Linked DNA regions of Homo sapiens. The protein of the gene in region 1 interacts with the protein of each later gene in a pairwise test. Each region holds a gene or a part of one and is shown in the gene's direction. Other genes may lie near its edges.

Region 1 (3,500 bases):
CATTATGGGACTCTTCACCAATTTATAATTTTTTGTAGCAGTTACACAGGAACAGTATTCAGTTTACTGATGGATATGAAGTAAAAGAAGATATTGGAGTTGGCTCCTACTCTGTTTGCAAGAGATGTATACATAAAGCTACAAACATGGAGTTTGCAGTGAAGGTAAATTTTTTTTATTTAAAATGCAATTCATACAGTTCTTGTTCATGCATGTCAGTACCAGTTAAAAATTACACTCCCCTTGTTGTTAAAAGTGCCTTTTGTTATAAAAAAGTTAAATATCTGGCTAGTGATCTTCAGAGATCTTAATCTAGAACCCTGTGAGCTAAAGGTAAGGTGGTTATATATCTAGTTTTCCCAGAGCAGTAGCAGTTTACACCTCAAGTGATTTTTTTTCTTTTTTTACCTCAAGTGATTTTTAAAGTATCTTTTTACTCTGAGAAGTCCCCATTTTATGCTCAGGGTGTCAGCAAATTCCTCAAAATTGTGTGCAAAATTTTGTATGTTTACATCTTCTCTGGCAAAAAGTTCATACCTTTCTTTGCATCTAAAAGGATCTGGGAACTAATGAATAAAAACCACTATCATAAAATTCGTTATCATTGGCTGTTTTAATTTCATCAAGTATCCTAAGACAGAATTTTCTAAGCCAAAAACCAAGGAACCTAGCTCTACGATAAAGTTTGAATTTCAAACCTTTAGTCGTAAGTGAACAAGCACTATGTTCAAGTCTCTTTTCACTTCTTGGAATAGTAACCTCTGCTCTCCAATCTCAAGCAATTCAAACAATGTCTAAAGCTTTCAACTTGTTTGAACCTTAGGACTGGTTTATAAATATACATAGCTCATGTTTAGAGAGATAGTGACATTAGTTGTTATCACTCTTCTAAACTTAGATGTAACTGCTTTAAAGTCGTCAGTGTCTATAGGGCTTTCTGTCAGATAGAAGGATGAACCATAAAAATACATTTAATTTGCTTCATTGGAAGGACAATAAAGCTAATTTTAAAGAAGGAAATTCTTAAAAGAAATACATTTAATTTTCTATTTTCCTATTCATTGCTCTTACTGAAATCTAAGATACATAGAAGTTTTCAAATTGCTTACATGAAAGGAGAAAAGACTAATAATGTATTTGGTAGGCAGTTTAAGGATGTGTCTTGCCTCCATAAATACATCATAAAAAGCAGAAATGTCCTGAGGCCCCTTTGAATTACAGAAACCTTGAGGACTATGCCTAAAACCTCAAAAATATCTCCAAGCTATTTGTGGATTTTTGTAACTTAAATGATTCATAAAACCAATCCCAACACAACTGGATTCTACTGAAATTACCACATATTTGAGGTCCACAAGCACAAGTATAGATCTAATGCAAACTGGGCTCAGATTAGCAGATCCATGCCAAAAACGACCCCTCCCAGTGTGTTCTGGTTTTCAAAAGACTAGTCCCAGGTCATCTCTTAAATTAGCATGTCTATTCCATATACCTCTCCTCTTAATCACCCATTTGCCTAATTCCACACTATCATTTGCAGTTGATTACAGTGGGCACCTGTATGTTTACCTTCCCTGTTCTCCAAATACAGAACTGTTATACAAGTACAGTCTACCCTTGAATAACACAGGACTTGGGAGTGCTGATCCCCAAGCAGTTGAAAATCCACGTATAACTTGACTCTCCAAAACTTAACTGCTCATAGCCTACTGTTGACCAGAAGCCTCACTGATAGCATATATAGTCGATTATTTTGTATGTTATATGTATTATATACTGTATTCTTACAATAAAGTAAGCTAGAGAAAAGAAAGTGTTATTAAGAAAATCATGCCAGACATAGTGTCTCACGTTTGTAATCCTAGCACTTTGGGAGGCCGAGGTGGGAGGATTGCTTGAGGCCAGGAGTTTGAGACAAGCCTGGGCAACAGAGCAAGACCCTATCTCTACAGAAAAATTGTTTAAAAATTAGCCAGGCGTGGCTACATGTGCCTGTAGTCCCAGCTACTCAGGAGGCTGAGACGGAAGGATTGCTTGAGCTCAGGAGGTTCAGGCTGCAGTGAGCTATGTGCCACTGTACTCTAGCCTTGGCAACATAGCCAGACCTCATCTCTACAAATAATTTTTAAAATTTTCTGAGTGTAGTGGTATGTGCCTGTGGTCCCAGCTACTCAGGAGGTAGAGGTGGGAGGATCACTTGGGCCCAGGGGTTTGAGGTTGCAGTGAGCCGTGATTGCGCCACTACACTCCACCCTGGGCAACAGAGCAAGACCCTGTCTCAAAAAAAGAAAAAATATATATAAGGAAGAGAAAATACATTTACTGTTCATTAAATGGAAGTGGATCATAATAAAGGTCTTTTTCCTCATCATTTTCACCTTAAGTAGGCTGAGGAGGGAGGAAGAAGAGAAGGAGTTGGTCTTGGTGTCTCAGGGGTGGCAGAAGCAGAAGAAAATCCACGTGTAATTGGTCCCTCATAGTTCAAACCTGTGTTGTTCAAGGGTCAACTATAAATCCATTTCAGATAGAAGACTGGACCCATGCTTGAGAGTTGTAACCTCTTTCCTAGGTTGCTGGAGTGTCTGGGTATTTAGTGCATACTTAATTACTAAGCTGTTTAAAATTGAACATACAAAGGCCACCTAATTTGTTTCAGACTACCCTTTGAATGAATAGAAAGCAAAATTTGTCTTTTTTATATAATATTAGTTGAGCAGATTAAAACATTAAGAAAAATATTTTTAAGGAGCAGCCAATATAAAAGGGTTAGAAAGCTACATTACTATTTTAAAGGGCTTTATTATAATAATTAAACCAAATTCTAACCAAATAAAATGCTAGGTATGATTTTCTATGTAGCTTTCTGCCTAACTTCAAAAACAAGATTGTTCTACTTAGCAGATAATTAGCTTTTATAAGTAGCTTACAGCTAACAGGATATTCAATTGAAGCATTTTATTAAAGGAAGTAAACTTAATTCAATAAGCAGATGCTAGTGGTGGTGTTATATCTAGCTCTTAATTATCTGTATTGATGGGGGGTTAGAAGTTGACTGAGTTCCCAAATGTTTAAGGCCTCAAGGATAGAAGAAAAGATATGTTAACTGTGTTCTTGGTACCTTTTCTCGAGGCTTTTTGAGTTTTTGGTTAAGTCCTAAACTTACTACAAACTTACAAACTTAGATTGGAGAGGCATGGTGGGAATGCGACTCATGAGTTAGAATTTACAGCCTTGCCATCTATATCAAGACTGGCTTTCTGATTAAACAATCTGGCCAGGTAGTTGAATAAAACTGACTGATAAATGGCTTATTTATACACTATTTACATGAGGTAATACCCAAGGTCTGTAGCTATAAACAATTAATGTTTATAACTGTATAGTTGATGAGGTTTTGTGATAAACATTTGCCTTTTAGATTATTGATAAAAGCAAGAGAGACCCAACAGAAGAAATTGAAATTCTTCTTCGTTATGGACAGCATCCAAACATTATCACTC
Region 2 (3,500 bases), 1.8 Mb from region 1:
TCCGATTCATATTGCATTCTCTTCCATCACTTTATTTGGGGTGAAGCACATCGTCCTGTCAGTATCCACATTTGAAAAATAAAGAGATCCTGGCTAGATTGGGATCTAAGTTCACTTAGTTTTTAGTAAGGGGAACTTGGTGAAAAATCGACTTGTGAGGTCTCCAGAAACACTTAATTGATAATGAGTCAAAAGGCATTACTCTTGGCATGTGAATATTGGATGTGACTCAAGGGTGAGTCAAATGCCTGTGGAGCCTGGATTCATGTTCTTTTCCCCGTTTGTCAGTAATCCTTTCTAATGTTCCAGTTCCATGATGTGATTTTAGTGGAATTAAACTTGAACCACTTAGTTATGATGTTGTTACTGTGTTGGGAACGCAGCAGCCACCAGACCACCAAGAGCAACTGTAGGTTGGGCTTGGTGGTGCTGGTTTAGTGTTGTGGCTGATGAGGTGTAACCCAGGAAATTTTTATTTTTGCTTTTAAAAAAACAACTCATCTGTGGTCATCTTGTAAGTGAAGTATTGGACTATAAGGACTCTTGAGCCCGAAAAACATTTTGTGACTTAGCCTGAGGCTAACAGGAATAAACTTGTCCCATGTTCAGATAGTTTAGGCATATCTGAGTTGGTGGAGGAAATGTGATCTGTTCCTAGCCCTATGTGCTAGGCAGGATGCCTGGGTATCCAGAGAGTGAGTGAGAGGCCCGGCGCGATGCCGCATGCCTGTAATTCCAGCACTCTGGGAGGCGAAGCGCTTGAGCCCAAGAGTTCAAGACCAGCCTGGGCAACATGGGAAAAACCTGTCTCTACAAAAAAAAAAAAAAAAAAAAAAAGAAAAAAAATTAGCCAGGTGTGGTGAGTTTTCTGCACCTGTAGTCCCAGCTAGTTGGGAGGCTGAGGCGGGAGGATCCCCTGAGCCCAGGAAGTGGAGACTGCACTCCAGCCTGGACAGTGGCGTGAAACTCTCTCAAAAACAAAACAAGGGCCAGGCGTAGTGGCTCATGCCTGTAATCCCAGCACTTTGGGAGGCTGAGGTGGGCAGATCACCTGAGGACGGGAGTTTGAGATCAGCCTGGCCAACATGATGAAACCCTATCTCTACTAAAAATACAAAAATCAGCCGGGTGTTGGTGGCCTGTGTCTGTAGTCCCAGCTACTCTGGAGGCTGAGGCAAGAGAATGGCTTGAACGAGGGAGGTGGAGGTTACGCTGAGCCCAGATTGTGCCACTGCACTCCAGCCTGGGCGACAGAGAGACTGTGTGTCAAAAAAGCAAAACCCGCACACAAAAACAGTGGTGAGTGAGCTGCTGTAACCTCTTCTTGCCATGTTGGAGTGGAAGGTCTCTAACAGGCCAGCCAGCTCTGAAAAGGTCTAGCAATCCTATGTCCATTTTTTTCCCCTGGGCTGGGCGTATCTTTTGAAGGCAGACCTCCACCAGGGTCTGTATCCTGGAGACAGCTCTGGTACATGGTAGATATTTGGTACACGCTGATTAAATAGACCAAGTTTATGTTATGGTAAAGGTGGAATGCTGGTTCATGTCCATTAGGGGAAAGTGAGATGCTCATTTACCTTGTAGAATTATGAGGATGGTCCAGAATTCAGAAACGTGGCAGATACTGTTAGGTCTGTCATTTGGACCATTGCTATATGATTTGTGCAGGGACACAAGGAGATTTGTGTCGCTCAAATTCACAAATTCTATAACCTTGTTTAATAATTTAAGAACAGAAGGCTACTTGGGAATTACGGGCTTAGCGGAGAAGGTTTGGGGCAGGGGGTTCTTTTGTACCCTTGACCCTCATCAGGGAAGCCTGTGCACCTCTTCTCAGAGTAAGAATTTTAGATGCGTGAAATAACCCAATCTTCAAAATACAAAACCCCCACCGTGTGGTATGGTAACATGTGCTTTGCTTCCCGTCCCCCCCCCCACCCCCTACAGTCTCGCTCTGTCGCCCAGAGCTGGAGTGCAATGGCACGATCTCAGTGTAACCTCTGCCTCCCAGGTTCAAGCTATTCTCCTGTCTCAGCCTCCAGAGTAGCTGGGATTACAGGCACGCGGCACCACACCCGGCTAATTTTTGTATTTTTGGTAGAGATGGGGTTTCGCCATGTTGGCCAGGCTGGTCTCGAACTCCTGACCTCATGATCCACCCGCATTGGCCTCTCAAAGTGCTGGGATTACAGGTGTGAGCCACCGCGCCCAGCTCATGTGCTTCTTTATTAACACATCAAATAACAAGATGTGGCAGCAAGGCTAGTAAGTTTCATAAGTAGAGCTGAGCAAAATTGATATTTAACAAATTGTTAGGCAAGGAGAAAAACCTGATTTTTTGTGACAATGACCAGGTGTAGTTGACAGTGTGTGATTTTTTGGCCTCCAAGCATAACTGAAGAAAGTGCTAAATTTCTATTAGTGAAAATAAGTCTGTGTGTTTTTTTCCATTCAAGTTCACAGGCCCCCTGAATTGTATCCATTGGCCCCTTGGGCATCCATGGACCCCAGGTTGAGACCCCCAGGCTGGGGAGGGGGAGGACTGAGACAGCCCGTTCCTTTTAGGGGGTGTAGGTTTCCACCCAAGGCCAATGCTGGAGGCACATGTCCCTAGTTATTCTTCAAAAACAAAAGCGGCTCTTTGAACTATTTGAAAACATAAAAGTTGTACTTAGTAATTGCCACAGGGGCTAAGTGCCCTGAGTGCTTTGTGCATTAATTTTAGGTAAATCCTCAAAATAACCCTAGGTAGGTCTTGTTATCCCCATTTTAAAGACAAATAAATAGGCCTAATCTTGAGGTTTTTTACTTTTTGAGTGGCAGAGCTGGAATTCAAAGCCATGTTTGTTTGATTGGAAGGCTGGTTCTGCTTCCACGATTCTGAAGCCTCTTAGTTTAAGGCGGTGATTCTCAATGTGGGTGCTTCCCTCCGTGGGTGACATCTGGCAATTTCTGGAGACAGTTTTGGTTGTCACAACTGGGGAGATGCTACTAGCATCTAGTACGTCCTGCAGCGCACAGGACAACTCCCCTGCGGCATTGACAGCCCAAAATGTCCATAGTGCCCAGGCAGAGAAACCCTGGTTTAAATTCATACTAGACCATTTCAGTAATTTGGATGACAGATCATCAGCAAAATTTCCCTGGTCCTTCTTGGAAGTGTCAGTTATGCCCACAAATTGTTAGGCAGGGAAGGAGGATGGGCCCTGTCTTTCTCTAAGGTTGGCACTGGGCTCTGTTAGGAGCTTGGTCATTGCTTCCTACTGAACTGAGCCTGTGGTTTGAGGTGACCTTCCCTCCCTGATTTCCTGAACCATCGCTCTTTTTAACCAGCTCCCACGCTCCCCTGTATTTGAGCTGCCTTCTGGTGGAAGCATGTCTTCTTTGTGTGTTTTAAATAGCTATAACTGTCTAAATAATAAAACCTAAACAATGTAGTTCAGATTGCATCTAGCTTTCTCAAGAGTAGAGAAAGCTTCCTTCCTCCCGCTCCTTCAGCA

The links.
Region 2: the proteins of RPS6KA3 (region 1) and SMS interact in a two-hybrid assay, tested with the Homo sapiens proteins (one large-scale study listed by BioGRID and IntAct).

The regions. Positions count from the first base shown.
Region 1 is NC_000023.11:20,169,410-20,172,909, reverse strand, and holds part of RPS6KA3 (ribosomal protein S6 kinase alpha-3), read left to right. Parts: intron 1-38; coding exon 39-164; intron 165-3,418; coding exon 3,419-3,500. UniProt on the Homo sapiens protein: Serine/threonine-protein kinase that acts downstream of ERK (MAPK1/ERK2 and MAPK3/ERK1) signaling and mediates mitogenic and stress-induced activation of the transcription factors CREB1, ETV1/ER81 and NR4A1/NUR77, regulates translation through RPS6 and EIF4B phosphorylation, and mediates cellular proliferation, survival, and differentiation by modulating mTOR signaling and repressing pro-apoptotic function of BAD and DAPK1.
Region 2 is NC_000023.11:21,943,709-21,947,208, forward strand, and holds part of SMS (spermine synthase), read left to right. Parts: intron 1-3,500. UniProt on the Homo sapiens protein: Catalyzes the production of spermine from spermidine and decarboxylated S-adenosylmethionine (dcSAM).